Regions from separate parts of the Homo sapiens genome. Here regions 1, 2 and 4 are each linked to region 3. The links come from fine-mapping of genetic effects on gene expression. A gene starts in region 3. Each other region holds a variant in brackets. All regions are shown on one strand. Distances are from middle to middle. Region 1 overlaps C2orf76 (chromosome 2 open reading frame 76). Region 2 overlaps STEAP3 (STEAP3 metalloreductase). Region 3 holds the start of STEAP3 (STEAP3 metalloreductase). Region 4 overlaps C2orf76 (chromosome 2 open reading frame 76).

Region 1 (4,776 bases), 99 kb before region 3:
AACACAATGAAGAAAACAGGCTGTGGTCCCTGCCCTCATGGAAGCAGTTTGTGATAATTTGTTATGGGCCGGACATGGTCCTAGGTTTTGAGAGGACAGCCCACGTTTTCATCCCGAGGAATTTATAAATTCATAGGAAATAGTGACAAAAATAAGTTAAAAGACAAAACTATAATTGTAAAACCTGTTATGAAGGAAACAATATCAGAGAAGACCCCCGCTTTAGAAGGGTTGTCAGAGGAGATGGCACTTCAGTTAAGATGTAAAGGCAGGAAGAGAATAGGTGCTCGCTGTGTCCTGGTCGTTGTCTCTTCTCTCAGAAGTCTGGATTGAACATAAGACTGATTTGATTTCTTCAGTCGTAGACATCTCTAAATGATAATAGCTTCATGGGGCCATCTGTTCTTCACCTCACGGCTTTCTTCAGGGAGTTTCATTGTCTAATTCAGGAAATATAAATGTCAATACATTAAATGGAATTAATTCTCCTTTCTGATGTTGAATGAATACTGCTTTGGCCCATAATTCACAAATAATGGAGACACAAGAAGAATAAAATGAAGTACATATGCTCTGGTAAGCCTAAGCCAGAGGTTTCAAATTGGTATCTGGCAGGCAAATCCTGCCTCCAGAGAGGTTTCTTTTGGCCTATAGTGTTTTAAAAGTCAAGAAATTTCACCTAAAACCCTAGACTTGTAGCATTGCCATTTAAATCTTTAGGTGTGGCCACTCCAGGCTCATGTTCCTACAGCACTGTGATCAGTCAGCACTGACTGGCAGAGCCCCCTTTGATGGGCGCATGCTCTCAGATCTCACTGCCCCTCCTTGTTTGACCTGCTTCACTTACCTGTTGTCACCTGTCTGGCCTCTGGGTGAATTTGAGTACGAATCATCTCAGGGTTTTTTTTGTTTTGTTTTGTTTTGTTTTGTGTTTAAATATCTCTGCCTGGGACCAGCCTACCGTGAGTCAGATCCACTCGTGCCAGGCTGGGTGATCCTGACGTGCAGCCGGGGTGAGGACCACACTCCTAGGACCATAGCACTGGCTGGAAACGTACTTTTGTTACAGCATTCACCACTGGAGCACACGCTGTCATGAGTGGGCAGCTCCTCTTTTACTCTGTTCCTGGAATACCTGGTAGTAGGTGCTTTAAATGCTTGTAACATAAATTAATCAATTATATTTTAATTTGATACGTATTTGATCTTGAAAAAGCATTTTAAAAAAACCCACATTTCCTGACCAGGTGTAGTGGCTCATGCCTGTAATCCCAGCACTTTCGGGGCGAGGTGAGAGGATTGCTTGAGCCCAGGAATTTTAGATCAGCCTGGGCAACCTAGTGAAACCTGTCTATTAAAAAAAAAAAAAATGCCGGGACTATGGGCATGGTGCTGAGCGCCTGTAGTCCCAGCTACTTGGGAGGCTGAGGTGGGAGGATCGCTTGGGCCCAGGAGGTCAAGGCTACTGTGAGTATAATCACATCCCTGCACTCTAGCCTGGGCAACAGAGCAAGACCCTGTCTCAAAAACCTTCACATTTCCTAATTTAGATACGTGGATATTTTTTGTTTGTTTTACTTTTCTTTAGTAGGTAACACATTCATGTGGTTTTAAGATCAAAATGTGGAAAGGAATATAGTGAAAAGTCTCCTTTACCCTTCTGGTCTCTGTCTGACCAGTGCAGCACCCCCCTGCCCTCCCCACCCCCCACTCAGCAAGTACAAGCAAATCCCACCATAAATTCTCATTTTACCCCCTTTTTACTCAAAAGGTAGCTTCCTAAAAATAATGTTCTCTCATATCTCTTTAGCCTTGATGTAACTTGAAGATCTTATCATGTTAGTAGAGAGCTTCCTTCTTTTTCTTTTAACAGTTGAAAAGTATTTTTCATTGTTTGGGCATATTATGATTTACTTAACGAGTACCTAATTGAAGGACATTTGGACTTTTCCTAACATTTGCTGCTGTGAGCAATGCTGCAGTTAATACCCTTCTATGAATGTCATTTTACACACACTCGTGTGTAGTATAGTTCTATGATAATAAATTTCCGGCTGGGCATAGTAGCTCATGCCTGTAATCCCAGCACTTTGGGAGGCCAAGGTGGGCAGATTGCTTAAGTTCAGGAGTTTGAGACCAGCCTGGGCAACATGACAAAACCCCATCTCCACAAAAAAATACAAAAAATTGCTGGGTGCGGTGGCATGCACCTGTAATCCCAGCTACTTGGGGGGTTGATGCAGGGGGATCACTTGAGTCTGGGAGGTCGAGGCTGCAGTGAGCCATGTTTGTTCCACTACACTCCAGTCTGGGCAGCAAAATGAGACCCTGTGTCAATCAGTTAATCAATAAATTCGTTCATTCACTCATTGATTCTGAAGTGGAATGGCTAGGTCAAGGAGTATGTGCATATGTAATTTTGAGATATATATATATATACACATATATACACACATTTCTCTGTTAGGTGTTGTACCAGCAGATATTAATTAAAATTAGTACTGGCATTTGGAATATGTTTTTAAAAGAATATTTACTGTGTTTTGTTGTCTTTGAGGAGTTAGAGGAGTTATTTTGTTGGTTATATGAATTTTGGTGGAGTAATAAGATTGTTCTAGATCATTGGTTTCCACTAATGGCCAAAGACCCATAAGGGGCTCTCAGATTCATATGCTAAACAAACATCAGCTATATATATATATATAT[G/ATG]TCTCACACAAGTGTATTAGTATATATTTTAACTATACATAGATACTGTTGTCTAATGAAATTAAACATTCTTTTAATAGTGTTACTGAAGTCTTAGTTCAGATAGTAACAACTCAACATCTTGTCAATAGCTCTAATATTTTAGATGGTGATATGCTTTGGCCGTATCCCTACCCAAATCTCATCTTGCATTGTAGCTCCCATAATCCCCACCTGTCAGGGGAGGGACCTGGTGGGAGAGAATTGAATCATGGGGGTGGGTTTTTCCCATGCTGTTCTTACGGTAGTGAATAAGTGTCGTGAGATCTGATGGTTTTATAAAGGGCAGTTCCCATGCACAGACCCTCTTGCCTGGCGCCATGTTAGATGTGCCTTTGCTCCTCTTTCACCTGCCATGATTGTGAGGCCTCCCCAGTCCATTAAACATTTTTTTTAATAGATTACCTAGTCTTGGGTATTTCTTTATAGTGGTATGAGAATGGACTAATATAGATGGCCCTTGGATTTCGGTGATGTATTTATTCTGTGTTCTGTCAGGTTTTTCAAGGTAACTTAGTCTGTAGATAGAAAAGAATAGAACCAAAAGACTGTGCATATTCTATGAGTGTCTATTTGCTTATTGTGTAAAAAAATAATCTTTCTCTTGTAGATATCCCTTTAAGGACCAACCTGCCACCACCATTCAGAAATTATAAATATGGTAACCATTTTTTTATTCTTTTAAAATATATATAAATACAATTTTGCATTAGTTTGTTACAAACTTAAATTTTGTTTTCAAAAATGACTATCTGTAAATAAAAACCAATTTGGAAGTTTATTTAGAAATACAGGAATGCTAGTATATTGCTGAAATGAATTGTAATAGTAAGGAAGTGGCGTATTTGCAAAGAGTAGCATGTTTGCCAAAACTGTGTTTAAAACGAGTTTCTCTGCCAGGTAATTAGAAAAGGAAAAATGATTGAAGACTAAGAATTAAAAGAAGGGATTTAACATTTTAAATGCCAATAATTTGAGCATGTTATATAGTAGTTTTATGTGTTACAATTGATGATTTAAAAATGGAGTAATAAGGTAAGAAGCTAGATGTTGTCATTCATTATTTGTTATAAAGATGGCACAGTTATTAACCTTCAGCAGAGTGACACTCACCAAACTTTGAATTTGAGACTTCATTTGAAAGGTATGATGCACCTAATAAATATTTCTCTTAATTGGTGCAGACATTTTAAAGTATAAATTTTTTATTACCTTAGATTTTTTTTTGGAGTGGCTTTTCATTCTGTTCTCATTTGATAGAACAACTTATGACCTAAAATCCTTTGAAATCACAATCTTCGCCGTGTGTATGCATTTTAATATCCAGAAACTAATTGTGAGGTTATAAGGGGTAGTGAAGCAGAAGTTGAAGGCACTGAGTGGAAAGTACTTTGATTTATTGGGCTTAAAGAATTTACATACTCAATATTGAATAAGATAAAGGAATAAAAAGGATGATTAAGGTAAATATGAAACTTCTCAATTGTGGCTTTCAAGGCTTTCAAAGTATAATGTCTTGAAATATAGCCTTAAACTTGAATCAACTTACAGATGCCATTTTAAATTAGAATAGTTACATATGGTTTCCTTTTTTCATGGTGTGTGTGTATGTGTGTATCTATATGTCTATGTGCAAAGCTGTGTTCCATGTAAGTTCTTTTGAAAGAAATTTTAGATAATGAAAGCGTTAGAATATCCAAGTTGCTAAGCATTATTGTGGTAGATAATGTACCTTTTAGACTATTCTATCTTATTAACTTCCTTCTGCCCTAGTATTTCTATACTATTCAGATGAATTGGCAGAAAAAATGAATACATTTATTTGTGAAGAAATTATAGAACCACTCGAGTTTTGATAGACTTCAAGTGGCTTTGTCTGAACTTGGCTGTTTAACAATCTTCTGCTTTCTGTTGAACAAGAAAGGCTGCAGTGTTATTTTCACCTGTCATTGTCATCCGGGACTGCCACCTCACGGTCTGCGGGACAGGGCACTTTGTTAGGTATTCGGGAGTGGAAAGAGTGTGGAGTCA
Region 2 (4,735 bases), 39 kb before region 3:
ACATGGAATTTACCAGGCTGTGGAGATGATGTGCTCTCGGGATGCTGCTGCCAGTAGCCTGGTGAGGTAGGGAAGACAGCAGTGGACGCACAGTCAGGGCCCAGTACACAGCCCGCCTGCCTTTCGTGTGATTGTCCAGCAGGTGGCACCTGTTCCCTCCTGCCACCCACCTTATAATTGCTTCCCTCTTGAGCACCTTCAGCCAGAGGTGGGTGGGAAGGGGAGGACGTGCACTGGGTTCTGCTATGTGCCAGCATCTTTGGTATAAGGAGCCATTCCCTGGCCCAGGGCAGGCAGCCAGTACCCACCGGGGTTGGGGATCATTGGTGGGTCTCCATTGCCCATGCTCTCCCTGCCTCTCATTAGTAGGGAATCGATGGGCCCTTGTTATGCCAAGGCAATGCTAAAATCTCTGCTTTACCTGCCCCCTTCTCAGCAAGGCTCTCTGTGGGCCACAGCTGATGCTCCATCAGTGCCAATTTATGAGACAAGTTTCTGCCGCTCAGCCTTGGCACAGCAGATGGAAAATACCTGCAGGAAGAGCTTCCCCGGCATGGCCTTCCCTGCATCGGTCATGTGCCTAATGAGCTATCCTTGCAGTGGGCTCTTCTCCTGCTTTTCACTGAAGAACCCTTATGTGCTGCATAGACATGAGCTCATGAAACCTCCCTGGCGGGGGGGGGGCAGGGGCAGCCTCATCTGTGACATTCTCTCTGGGCAGCCTTCACTGGCCCTACTCTCTTCCTTCCATCAGAAGATGGCTTTGGGCCCAGGAGACTCATGAAGACCTCACCCTCTTTGTCTTCAAAGATGCTTTTTCTGTGGCAGATCAACCTGGTTCTGCAGAGGGTTGGGGGCTCAGCCGAGAACACCTGTTTCTTCACAGGGGAAGTAAGCTAGAGTCAGTAGGGAGCAGCAAGGATGGCCTGTGACTGGAGGACAGACGTCCTGTGGCCCCGGCGGTGCTCTTCCCTCTTGTGCTTTGGGGCAGCAGCATTTTAGGTTTGTAGCTTTGGTGGAAAAGTTGCTCCCCACTGTTTTGAAGTGTAATGCCCCATGAGGAGGAAGTTGGAGCCAGTGTGGTTTTCTGGGTCCTCTGCCAGAGGACATTTGGAGTCCCCAATATTTTTCCTCAGGACTGACTTCGTGAAGACAGTCCTTCAGCCCAGGCAGGGCTCAACTCTGACGCCCGGGGAGCTTTACTCCCTAGAGTGTTTTCTCTTGCTCTCCCCCTTGGGCTGATTTCTAAAGGGTCTGCTCTAGGCCTTCCTGGGAGTCATTCAAACTGAAGATGGAAAGGGTGAGAAGGCACAGTGGTTTAAAGGACGCTCATCGCCAGGTTAAAGGAGGGAAGGAAATTACACTTGTTCCCAAGCCAGGCTCACTAATGGCTCTGGAAAGGAGGTGACGTCACTCTCACAGGAGGATCCATTTGCAGGCTCTATGGTGACTTCTGACTTTCAGGGAAAATGTCTCCCCCACTCAGCAAGGATGAGGTGGAGCAGCTTCAGCCCAATCCCTCCATCCTCCCACCACCGGGCAAAGGACCAGGCACAGACTCCAGGCCGACTGCCTGATTTTCCTCCTCCCCAGGCCTCCTGCTGCTGCCCCAGGTGGAGGGAAGAGACCAGCCGCTGCTCACATGCTCCAGGGATGGCTCTGGGCAGAGCCGTTGCCTTCCCTCCCCTTCAGAGCCCTAGCTCTGCAAGAGCCTTGGGGAAGTAGCAAAAGGGAAGTTGTGGGG[G/A]TGGGGTGGGCAGGGATAAATCGAACCCACCACAGCACAAGCCTCTTCTGTACAAAAAGTGTGTGTATATCTCTGCAAATGTCACAATAGCATGATCTGCTCTTCTCTTAACGTACGGCACTTGTTTTTAAATCTACAAGTTGAAATCTCAGAGACCCAACTTTTTAGCTAGCTATGTATAATTGCAAATCCTGTTATATATGTGGAATATATGTAAATACATATACACATATGTGTGTATATCATTCTGAATAGTACTGCATACATTTGAGTCCCAGGAATTTGGACCTCAAACCTCCTATTTGCACACAGTTATACCACTTTGCACCACCAAGAAAAGAAAACCTAACGGGCTCAGGGCACCGTCCCTCGTGTGCCCGGGGTCCAGAGCCCAGGGCAGGCACCTCATACGTGGCTCGTCTTCTCGGCCAGGGCGTGGTCTGTGGGCAGCGTGAACTTGATGGTGCTCTCCCTCTCCCAGCCTCTCCGGATCCTGGCGAGTCTGCGGCTGATGCAGGGCAGGAGAAACAGGGCTTTGGCCAGGATGACGACGCAGGGCACCAGCAGCGTGAGCGTGAAGGTGGGAGGCAGGTAGAACTTGTAGCGGCTCTCCTCGAAGGCGCGGGTCCAGCCGTAGGTGAGCGTGTGCAGTGTGCTCAGCACGAGGGCCACAAAGCCCAGTGAGGACTGTGGAGGGAAAAAAAGGCTGGAGTGAGGGCGAGGGGATGACAGATGCAGTGATCCTGCCAACGACTCATCTGCTGGCCTGGCGGAGGGGAAGGAGGGTGGCTTTAGTACTCACCGCTATGGGTTGGAACCCCAGTCCTGTCACTCTCTTAGTGTGATCTTATGATAACTCTCAACTCTCTGTGCCTCAGCTTCCACAACAGGAAAATGGGAATAATGCTTCTATGCTGAAGGTGTCTAAGGACCCACCAATTCACACGGATTCCATACAATAACTATATGACCATGCTTTTTCCTTAACTTTGTTATTTGTTATCTCTGGAGGCTGCTGGATGATTTCAGATGGAATTAAGTTCAAAGAAGTTTAAAAAACATTTAAGGCCTGCTGCGGTGGCTCTCGCCTGTAATCCCAACACTTTGGGAGGCCTAAGTGGGTGGACTGCTTGAGCCCAGGGGTTCAAGACCACCCTGGGCAACATAGTGAGACCCTGTTTCTACAAAAAATACAAAAAAATTAGCCAGGCTGTGGCAGCATGTGCTTGTTGTCCCAGCTACTTGGGAGGCTGAGATGGGAGGATCACTTGAGCCCAAGAGGTCAAGGTTGCAGTGAGCCAAGATTGTGCCACTGCACTACTGCACTCCAGCCTGGGTAACAGAGCAAGACCCTGTCTCTAAATATATATATACATATACATGTATATGTGTGTGTGTGTGTGTGTGTATAAATTTTACTAGTTATGTGTGTATTTTAATGTATATTAGAGTAACAAGTGTCTGCTTGCATACCAAAATCATAATTTCACAGATAACATTTGGCCTAAGTTAAGATCAGACAAAAAGTGGATTGATTTTAAATTAGCTTGAAGATAAATGCAGAGTAAATAATTTACAGATGGCACGTGGATTTGGCACCAGTAGCGAAGGGGACTCACGGGGCCTGTGGTCTGGGTGACCTGGCACCGTATAGAAAGCCCCAGAACACCACACAGATGCCCTCTGTGCATGCTAGACCTTCACCTCCCACCCCACACTGGGTTATAAACAACCCGGGTGGAAACCCCGCTGGGCCTACTCTTCCATCTGGAGGAGATTAGTGACCGTTGGGAGAAGAGACCATCCCAACTCTAAATGGAAATGGTCCCGGCCATTTTACAATGGAGCTTCACACCCCTTGAACAATGTGTGGGCTTTTGTGGGTCACTTCCAGCCGAGAGTGGCTGATCCACCACCCAAAGCATGACTTTCTGTAAGAGATGCAATGTGAAAATGGCTGGGAAGTGCTGCTCTATGACTCCAGCCTCTTGGCATGTACGAGTTCTCGTGGACCACGAAGGAAGAGATGCAGGTTCTACTGTTGGTGCTGGTTCAACTGATATGAACCCTGGGCAGGCGACTTAATCAACTTCAGTGGGAGATAAGTAATTTCCAAAGCTAAAGTCAGAGGGGGAAGCGCTGAGTAGTTGCAGTAGCCTCCATCTAGTCCCCTAGACAGGGCAGGCAAGTGACACAGCAGAGGGCACCGAGAGCGAGGGAGTCGTGGCACAGGGGTGCTCTGACTGAATTCTGCTAGCACTGGTGAGCCACTGAGAGCTTTGGGAGAGACCTCCCACGTCTATTACACAGGGATGGAAATAGCGATGACCCATCAAGCAATGAACACATATGCATTTTCTCCAAGGAGACATTGCGAGGGTGTAATTTAAGTGTGGCGGCACACTGAGACCTCTGGGTGGTCTGCATGGACTGAGCCTCCTGGATTCCCTTCTAGCCCAGCTTGTTGGCATCAATCCAGAGCCTCGGCTGACAGACGCTTCTCATTTGCACTCCCCTCAGAAGTGTTTCTAAGTGGGTCTGATTCCACATTGGGCCCCGTTCTTGCTCCTCCCTGGTGTGTGTGTGTGTGTGTCCCTTCATTTCCTGCTCCAGGACAGACACCAGGACAGTGAACGTCAGTGAGTGAAAGAACATGGTGTGGGAGAATTGCTTGTAAAGCTTTTGCTAAAGATAATAATAAACATTTTCCAATGGCTGCACACTACAATTTCACAGACAGGTTCTCACGTTCAACATTCTTGGGCCCAAGTAAAATAACCAAATAAAACCTTCTCTATCCTTCCTCACCCTCTCTGGTTCTTCTTGGCTTTGTGTCCATTTTTGGAATCTTCTTGGCCCAGTCTTTAACAACTTCTGGCTCACCACGAAGAGTGAGGAAGCCACGATTGGCTTTATGCTGTCACCCACAGTGAATTCCTATCATTTTAATGTGGTCACCTCCCAAAGAGAAGACTCCTTGACTGTCAGTTG
Region 3 (4,776 bases):
AAGCTAGTGGTTCGGTCTACAAGAGCACTAGGCCTGGAAGGCCCCTCACTGGTTAACTCGCAAACCTGAGGTGAAGAAGGAGGGATCCGATATTTACTGCACTCCTAAAACTCAGCACTTCACACACTTAGTCCCCCAAATAGGCATACTTGTTTTATGAGGATATCCTGTTTGAAGCCCTTGGCAAGGTTTTGCAAATAAACAGAGGTTCAGAGAGCTGAGGGCTTCATGTTACGGGGTAAGGAGCTGAGATTTGGACTCGTCCATCTGACTCCAAAGCCAGACTATCCCCAGCACTCAGCCAGCGACCTTTTGCCCACTCAGCTCTCAGGTGTGCGCCTTTGGACTTCACTCAAGAACTTTCACTTTTTAACCACCTGAAGCCCTGCCCAGCACCTTGGTCTCTGATAAGTCCAAGAAGGGAAGGGCTGTGGGCCAAGGATAGGAGATATGAATGGGAGAGGAATCTACCTGTTTGACATCTCTAGGCTGGAGAGGGAACATGTGTGATCCCAGCTTGACCTGGCCTGGTCCTGGGGACCTCAGCAAACCTGGGGCAGGCTGTTCAACCCCCAGGTGGACAAGTGGCCCAGCCTGAGCTCCCTGCTGGCTCTGAGGCCAGCATTAGACTGTGTCACTTCCATACCTGCTGCCGGATTGCCTGGCTGAGGCCACCTGCTCCATTTAAGCCCCCTTCAGGACACTAGTGACACCATCTACCCCACCCCGCCCACTTACCCATTAGACATTCACTAAGCACCTGCTCCTTGCCAGCCCCTCTGCAGGCCACCAGGGACAGAGATGAGTAAGACATAGTCTGGGTCCTCCAGGTGCCCCTAGCTGATTCAGTCAGCTTCGGATGGGACTTGGGGATCTATATTTTTAACAAGCCTTGCAGGTGACTGAGAGGACACACCCAGGTGAGACCCTTTGGTTTTGTGGACCTTCTGGCTCTCAGCACTGTATTCTTGGGGCTGCCAGAATCCCCGTGAGGACACAGCCTGTTTCGCCCCAGTGGTAGGTTCCTCTGGGCTCCAAGTCAGATAACTCTGGGTTCAAATTCTACTTCTGCAACTTCCTAGCTGTGTATCCTTGCAAAATACGTGGACTCTCTGAGGCTGTTTCCCCATTTTTAACAAGAGATAATGGTGCCTTCCTGTTGTGAGGATTAACTGGGATATTGTGCTCAAAGCCCTTAGCAAGATGCCTGGCACACATAAATGGGAATATCTGCTGTTAATTATATTATGGCTGCACTCTGATGGACAGAAATACCTCCCTGGGGGCATTTCCAGAATCCCCACTTCTGGAGCCCATCTCTGAGGTGGCCCTGGATATTTGGGAGGCCTCTCTGTGCCCTCTGCCAGGGCTCCAGCGGGACCTTCCTGCTTCTCCCCACGGATCCGGCTTTCTGGTCCCCAAACCGCATATTATCTGGGCACACCCTCCCCTTCATTTACCCAGAGTGACCAAAGTTCCAACCACACCTCTCCGGGCAGCCTGTCCCCAAATTTCGGGGAAGTGGGCAGGAGGGGGAGCTTTGCCGGGCAGGAGGGGGAACTTTGCCAGGCAAGGGCTCCGCGGGCAGAGGCGGGCACTGGTGAGGCCAGCCTCCTCCTGGGGACCAAGGTCGGGCGCCCCTGCCCAGCCCCTGCACCTGCCCCTGTCCCTGCCCTGTTCGGCTGCGAAGGGACTGGGAGGTCTGGCGAGGAAGAGCCTGGAAGATCCCCGCCCACAGCTACCAGCCCTCCTTTGGGACCGCTGGCCAGAGCCCCAGCCGTGGGGCACACGGGACCTGTGGACTCAGCCGGGGTCATCCGGAGGGGCGCCCACATCTGCACCCGGGGCTCCGGAGCCTGCTCCCCGCCACTGTCGCCGCCGGCCCTGCCTAACCTGCGCGGCGCAAGCGGCTTCCACGCCTAGGGAAGGAAGGCACACGGGGTGGGGGCCCCGGAACCCGGTTTCTCTGCCGCCGGGCGCACGTGGCTCGGTCCCAGGGGACAGAAGTCGCCTCCAGACGTGTGGCGGCACCCGAGGTCCGCGCAGCGACGGCGCAGGGTGCAACCGGGCGGGCGTCTCGGGGACCGGGCGCAGCACGCAGCCCCGCGGAGACCGGGGGAGGGTACACTCACCTCTGCGGCCCGCCGCTCGGAGCGACCGCGGCAGCTGAAGGTCCGCGGCGAAGGCGGTGGCTCGGCCCGAGGCTCCTCCTCCCCCGCGCCCCACCCGCCCGGGAGGGCCGGACCTGCAGGGGAGGTGGCCGCCCTCCAGCCCGCCGCAGCTTATCCGGCTCGGCCACCTCCCCCGGGGCCGCAATCAGGAGCCGCCGGGTCCTCGCTCCCCGCCCAGCCCTGCACAGCCCCGGCAGCGGTGGCAGCGTCCAACCACCCTCCTCCCCTGGCCCCAGGCGGGAGGTCGCCAGCCGGCGCCAACACTTCCTGATTTGCAGTGCCCGGCACACGGCTGAAGTGAGCAGAACTCCGGGACCTCCTCTTAACCCGGCCACGGAGGGCACCGAGGCCAGGGTGACCTCTAGGCCCCCCTCTCTTAACCTGAGGAGCACCTCGAATCCTTGTCCATTTTATAACCGAGGCCAAGTGGCAGCCACGGTTGCAGGTGGGAAGAGACCAGGGCTCCAGATTGGGTCCGGATCCCTTCCCTCTCAACAAGGTTGCGCCCAGGCCTTTGTGGTCCCCCCCCAATCTCTGTCCCTTGTCCACCCTTAGGGCAGACTTTTGACCCTTCCCAGCAGTCCTCAGGTTCCAAGACCGGTGGGATGGCGGGTACCTTTCTCCCGGAGCTGCCTCCCTGTCTAGGCCTTCTGGGCTCTGAAACCCTACCCGTCCCCCCTTCCCCCTGGGGCACTGCCCGCTGCCCTCCGCACTTCCAATGCCGATGGCTTCACAGCACTGCAGCGAAGCAGGGCGTAAGTAAGGGGAGGCTGTCTGTGGGCACCTCTCTAGAGGTGTGCGCCCTGGTCCGAAGCCCCTTCTCACCTGTGGTCACATTTGCCGGCTGCAGTTATTTTCTTTACAGGTGAGGAGACCCGGGCTTTTCCGCTCAGATTCGTGGAGGCTGAGTGGGGGTTCCTGACCCCTGGTACTCTTTCTAGAGTATTCCTGGGAGACATACACTATTAGCCTCTGATAAGGAGCTTCAGGTTATTTTTAGGAAGTCTAAGAATCCTGTTTTCTGGGGAGCCAGCCTCTGTTGGGGAGATAAGCCTCCGGAGGCCAGAGGCAGGAGCTGGGCCTCAAGGAAGGCCCCACAACTGGACCCCAAAGGGCACGGTGGGGAGGAAGAGGCAGAGCTCTGGTCTCCCTGTGGAGGGAGTGCTGCTGTAAAGCGCCTTTCCCTCCACCCCCAACTCCCGCCGAGAACCCCCCCACCCCCGCAGGCAGTTTGCTTTCCCCCTCCACAGCTTTCCTCCTACCCGAATACCCACCTCCCAGCTCTCTGCTCAGCCAGGGCCCAAGGCCAGAGCCTCTCTTCTCTTGCAAGAACTTTCCTGTCCCACCTTGCCCCAGGGCAACACCTCTTATGGCAATTCTTACAGGTCCTTTATCCATTCAACACTCACAGTGCCCCAGGTGCCAGACAGTGCTCCCAGTGCTGGAGACACACGTGCCCAATGGAGGTTCCTGCCCTTAGGGTGCCAGGGCTGGTGAGTGGCCCCTGCAGTGGGTTGTAAACTTTGAGAAGACAAGACCCAGTTCCTAGCCCCCTCTGGTGCCCCTAATATGCTCCCCCTGCAGTAGCTGTTCTTTTGATGCCTGCTCCTGCTGATGGGGATGGCTGAATAGCCTTCCTTTAATGCCCAAGGACAGCACAAGGAAACCGAGCTTGGGAAATGCAAACACTGAGAGGTCTTCCAGCATCTTTGGAAGAATCCCTGGGAACCAGTGTCTTTTTGTGGGGCTCTCCATGCATGAGTAAGAGAGAGGAAGACTTTTTTTTGAGGCGGGGAAGCGGGGCTCTCCATGAGTAAGAGAGACAGGGGGAGACATTTTGAAGGCTGGGCTGCCAGAGGTCTATAGAGGATTATCTTAAAAGGAACATGAACTCCTGCTGGAAAAAGTAGAGGGGTCTGAAATTTCTCACAGACAGGGAGGGAGGTGAATACCCTACTTGGGCCCACACACTTTGGCAGAGAGGCCACCGCCCACGCCGTTGACCTTTGGTGCTTGTTCTGTCCACTGACCGTTGGACTAAGGGGGCCTTGAGTGTGAGCTTGTCTCACCTGGCATGGGGTCAGGTGTTTCCAGAAGCTTGAGAGCCAAATTTCCCAAAGCAGACGAGCCCTTTCCTACTCCAGGGAGGAGTGCAATGTGCTGAGCTTTGTTGAGCACCTTCTATGGGCCAGACTCTGGTGTCCTCTGCCAAGGATAGAACAGTCAGAGCCATCCTTGCAAGATGTTTGCCAGATCGCATTTCTCCTCTGCTCAAAACTCTACCCCCTCCCCCAGCAAAAGTAAAGTCCTTGCAATAGCCGTGGCCCAGTGTGATTGGCCTTCTCTCTGCCCTCATCCTCTGTCTCCCTCTCTCTGCTCACATTCAGTCCCACCTCAGATGAATCTGACAGGATCCTGACCCCTGCCGTTCCCCTTGCCTGGACCCTAGGCATCCCCAGGTACCCTCCCTACCTCCTCCAAGTCTTGGCTGAAAGGTCATCATTTCTGTGAGGCCCACGCTGATCGCCCCCATTCCTCATCCATGTACCTGCTTGCTTTCTTTTTTTCCCCATAGCCTGTATTACCTCTGAACACACTATAAAAT
Region 4 (4,776 bases), 77 kb before region 3:
TCTTCAGACACATATTTTGATGGGTCATGAGGGAGAATGTAAAGTGATCTGTAAAATATTCTACTGATCCTCTAAGTATTAAATTATTATACCTACAGGCTAATTTCAGGGGGGGAAAAGAGTTTTCCCTCCCCTTCCTTCAGTACCTGAGTAGCATATTTGAGAAAAAAATCAAGGTTTTTTATTTCCTAGCACTGTAAAAAAGACTGTAAATGAGCAATTTTATGATTTCCTGAAAACCAGATTCTTGTATTAACTCTTGATTTTAATTTTTGGTTTTTTATTTTTTGTTCTTTTTTACTTTTAAATCATTTGAGGTTTTGATTCTTAAAACTTCACCTGAAACTTCTTGTTGATTTGGTAAAATGCATTGTGCGACCCAACAAATAACTCATCTTTTTCACTTTGGGCATCTGAAGCTATTCTGAAATACCGAATCAAAGTCATATGGATTTCCATACTTGTTTAAAATTTAGATTTACATTAAAATCTTTTTTTCCATTTTCTGTTTTTTTTCAGCCAGTGAAACTGAAATTGCATTCTTCTGTGAAGAAGATTATAAGAACTACAAAGCTAATCCCATTTCATCCTGGTGAAAACATCTCGAGGGCTTCCTTTTTGCATACCTGTATTAAGCTCTTTATTCCACTGCTGAATTTTTGAAATTGACAAACAAATCTTAAAAAATTAATCCCAGGCTATACTCTTTGAGCTAAAATCTGGTTATTTCTTTCTCTTCAGGTCTTTCCTTCTCTCTTTCTTTTTCTTTGTTGTTGTAAAATAATATATTATGAGAAAAACATTTGATCTTTTTAAAGGGAAATAAATTGTTATTAAAAATTATTGTGGAATATTGATTCTTAAATTATAATTTGTTTTCTAAAATTAGGAATTATTTTTGTGACTTGCATGTAGAGCTCCTTAAAAAGATTCTAAGACTAAGATCATACTGTTTATTGTATATTTTTTCTGTAGTTTCTAATTAGAGCAACTGTTTCTGTCTGTGGCTACCAGAAATTCTGAGTTTCTTGACCTTCATGGCTACCTTTTAGTTCAGGGTGTGTGATACATACCACCATATGTGCAATTGAATTGTGTATATTTTAGGGAGGTTTTATGATGTAGGAAGGTTACTTTTTTTTTTTTTTTAAAGTATTGCAGCCTATACAAATAATGTTGCTGATTTTTTTTTTTCTTTTCTTTCTTGAGCTGTGTTTTCCATCTTCAGGAAGAAACTATCATAGAATCAAACTCATTTATTTGGAGAGAGGAAGCGGCAGGATGCTTGCACTTCTGGAAGAAAATTGTTCATTGAGAACAAGTCTATGTCCTGGAAGATACATTCCTTCTAAATAATATAATACTTGTGGTTCCTGATTATGGCTGACCGCCAGCACCTGTGGAGTCCTTATTTCAGAGGCCTTTCAGTCAGGCTGCATTTAATCAGAACTCCTGGAGAGCTTAGCTAGCTCTGCCATTGCTCCCTGAGTCCTGGAGAGCTTAGCCAGCTCTGCCATTGCTCCCTGAGTGCCGGAGAGCTTAGCCAGCTCTGCCATTGCTCCCTGAGTGCCGGAGGGCTTAGCCGGCTCTGCCATTGCTCCTTGAGTCCTCAGAGTTGCCAGGAGGGCAAATTGGTTTCATTATGGTCACGTCTAACTTAAGAAAACCTATGATTTCTTAACAAATCAACTTTGAAACTCTGATTAACATGATTAGAAGATGCCTTGCTTTGTTGAAAAAGTTAATAGGGTCTTCTTTAAGATAAATTCTACTTATTTTATTCATTGTTTCATTCAGGAGCAAAGTGTTGAATACACAGATGATGTAGTTTTGGGGGAGTTAATAAAGAGGAAAATAAGACCCAGTTTTTGCCTCAGTGAATGGAGAAAGACATAGTACAAGCAAATGATTTTAAGAATAGCAGAAAAAGCTGCCATCAGAGCATTGTTGACAGAAATTAGTTGTGTGTGTGTGTGTGTGTGTGTGTGTGTTTTTAAGAAGTACCAGTTGAGCTGTGTCTTAGAAGATTGAATGGGAATTTTTGCTTAGAAGAAAAGAAGGGAAAGGCTTTCTGGAAGAGGGAATAGCATACACAAAGGCAAAGGACTGTGAAAGAGCTTGAGGTTTCAGGAGAAAGCGCAAATTTTAGTGTCCCTGACTTTTATAGATGGTGCAACTTAATGATGTTTCGACCTTATAGTGGTATGAAAGCAGTAGGCATTCAGTAGAAACACTGAGTACCCATACAGCCATTATGTTTTCCACTTTCAGTGCAGTATTCAATAAATTACATGAAATATTTAATACTTTACAATAAAATCAGCTTTGTGGTAGATGATTTTGCCCAACTCTAGGCTAATGTAAATGTTCTGAGCATATGTAAGGTAGATTAAGCTAATGCAATGTTTGATAGGTTAGGTGTATTAAATGCATTTTTCACTTAGATAATATTTTCAACCAACAATGAGTTTATTGGGACTAACCCCATTGTAAGTTGAGGAGCATCTATACAGGAGTGTAAAGTACATGGAACAGAGTAGAGGAAGATAAGGCCAGAAAGGTAGGTTGAGGTAGGCCTTACAAGTCATGCTAAGGAGTTAGAACGGTATCTAGTAGGTAGATGGGAGCCAGTAGCATGATTTAAA[C/G]AGGTATTTGATTCCATTTATATTTTAGAAAGTGAGCTTTGTCAGCAATGTCCAGGTGGCAGAAAGACTAGAAGACATCATTGAGCAGGTGAAGTTTGGAAGGCCTGGCCTAGGGCAGGGGCCGAGGGGAAGAGGAGGATTGGGGAGGTTCTTGGTGTTACCATGTGATCGTGCGTTCCGTGGCAAATATGGTGTGGTAGTTAATTTACATATGTTATCTCATTTGACTTTTACCACAGTTCTTCAATGGTAGCATGTATATTTATAGATGAAGAAATTGGGGCCCAGAGAGGTAAAGTTATTTGCTCAAGAGAATGCAGTCATGTGCAATGGGATTGGAACCAAATCTGTCTTAAAATCCTGACTTCCCCCATTCCATCCTGCAGCCTCCCAGTGGAGACCTGAGGTAGAATGACCTTAGAATGTTTGGGACCTGGTGAATGCCTGGACGGGGATAGTGTGGGGAGGAAGGAATGGAGACTTCAGTGATTCTTGCTGGAGTTGAGTGGCTGGATTAATGATGGCAGCAGTAATCCAAATAGGGAACTCAATAAGTAGAGGTTAAAACATATTCCATTTGTTTGCTTTGCACGCATTCAATTTGCATACCAGGCTTTTTTAAAATATAAAATTAAGCATATCTTTACCTGTGCATTTTTAAGTAGATAATGCAAAAATATGTATGTATAGTACCTTTTTTGGTATGTATTTTTCTTATAAAAGGTACATATAGAGTATTTTCACTTATAAATACAGAAAAAAAATCAAAAATAAATGTATCAACAGCAACCACCAGAAACTAGAAGAGGCAAAGAAGGATTGTTCCCTAGAGCCTGCAGAGGGAGCAGAGCCCTGCTGACACCTGGATTTCAGACTTGTAGCCTCCACAGCTATGAGAAAAGACATTTCTGTTGTGTTTACAATAAATAAAAATGTATTGTGACTAAAAAGGACTTTTACCAGGAATGGAAGATTGATTCAAAATTAGAAAATCTCTCAATATACTTTTCAAAATCTATATAGGAGAAAAAATATTATGTTTATCTCAATAGATGCCAAAAGGCATTTGATGATATTCTTGCTCATGCATATATAAAAATTAGCAAGGGAAAGAAATACCCTTAACTTGATGAAGTTTGCTCATAGAAAACCTACTTAATGGAGAAGTGTTTCAGCAAATCTATTAGATATGAATAAGAGGCTGCGGCTGGGTGCATTGGCTTAGGCCTGTAATCTCAGCCCTTTGGGAGGCTGAGGCGGGAAGATTGCTTGAGCTCAGGAGTTCGAGACCAGCCTGGGCAACAGGATGAAACCCCGTCTCTACAAGAAAAAAAAAAAAATTAGCTGGGTGTGGTAATTTGCCCCTGTAGTTCCAGTTACTTGGGAGGCGGAGGTGGGAGGATCCCTTGGGTCCAGGAGGTCAAGGCTGCAGTGAGCTGTGATTGCACCACTGCACTCCAGCACAAAAAATATGAATTAGACAAGAATGAACACTATTGCCAGTACTATTCAGTATGTTTCTGCAAGTCTTATTGTAGCCAGTAGGAAAAATAGTAAGATTCTCAGATATTGGAAAGGAGTAGGCAAAACATTCATTTGTAGACAATATGATTGCAAGAAGATTAAGTTTTTTTTGAACTAAGAGACTTGAGTGCTGAACCTAAAATGTATTGTTCACAAAAGCTATAAAATAGTGTTATTAGATGAGTATAAAAGACCTGAATAGAGATAGATTACATGTTTATAGATGGAAGATACCTACCTAATCCATAAATAAATGCAGTCTCAATCAAAATCCCAAAGGATTTATCATGGAACTTGACAAATTGATTTTTAAATTCATTTGGAAGAAGAATATGCAAGAATAGCCAAGATCAATTTGGAAAAACAAAACGTAGGCTAGAAGAAAGGGTGGTTGCCTACTAGATGTCAAAATAGATTCAGTGATCAAAACAAGTTGGTAATGATACAGAACTAGATAAAATGATCAATGGAATAGAATATGGAAACTAATAAAATTTACATGGAAACAATAGCTAATAAAGGTAGTATTTGTAATTATGAGGAAAAGGAAGATTATTTAGCACATGGCCAAGTATTTAAAAAAAACAGTTAAGGGTCCTACTTCATA

Evidence for each region.
Region 1: its variant is fine-mapped to the expression of STEAP3 in whole blood (INTERVAL, PIP above 0.99).
Region 2: its variant is fine-mapped to the expression of STEAP3 in whole blood (TOPMed, PIP above 0.99). The same link has a PIP of 0.9 or more in blood mononuclear cells.
Region 4: its variant is fine-mapped to the expression of STEAP3 in whole blood (TOPMed, PIP above 0.99).

The regions. Positions count from the first base shown.
Region 1 is chr2:119,319,784-119,324,559 of GRCh38, reverse strand. C2orf76 (chromosome 2 open reading frame 76) reads left to right here. Exons shown (of 6, transcript NM_001322331.2): 3 at 3,356-3,406. Among named protein-coding and RNA genes, the nearest start is that of C2orf76, 45 kb to the left of the region's middle. The variant G/ATG (reference allele first, on the strand shown) is at 2,707.
Region 2 is chr2:119,260,753-119,265,487 of GRCh38, reverse strand. It overlaps STEAP3 (STEAP3 metalloreductase), which reads right to left. Exons shown (of 6, transcript NM_182915.3): 6 at 1-2,431. The coding sequence ends at 2,150. Among named protein-coding and RNA genes, the nearest start is that of STEAP3-AS1, 14 kb to the right of the region's middle. RefSeq lists a silencer at 65-164. The variant G/A (reference allele first, on the strand shown) is at 1,745.
Region 3 is chr2:119,221,245-119,226,020 of GRCh38, reverse strand. STEAP3 (STEAP3 metalloreductase) reads right to left here and starts at 2,187. Exons shown (of 6, transcript NM_182915.3): 1 at 2,133-2,187. RefSeq lists silencers at 1,535-1,604, 1,665-2,444.
Region 4 is chr2:119,298,292-119,303,067 of GRCh38, reverse strand. C2orf76 (chromosome 2 open reading frame 76) reads left to right here. Exons shown (of 6, transcript NM_001322331.2): 6 at 520-843. The coding sequence ends at 596. Among named protein-coding and RNA genes, the nearest start is that of STEAP3-AS1, 52 kb to the right of the region's middle. The variant C/G (reference allele first, on the strand shown) is at 2,646.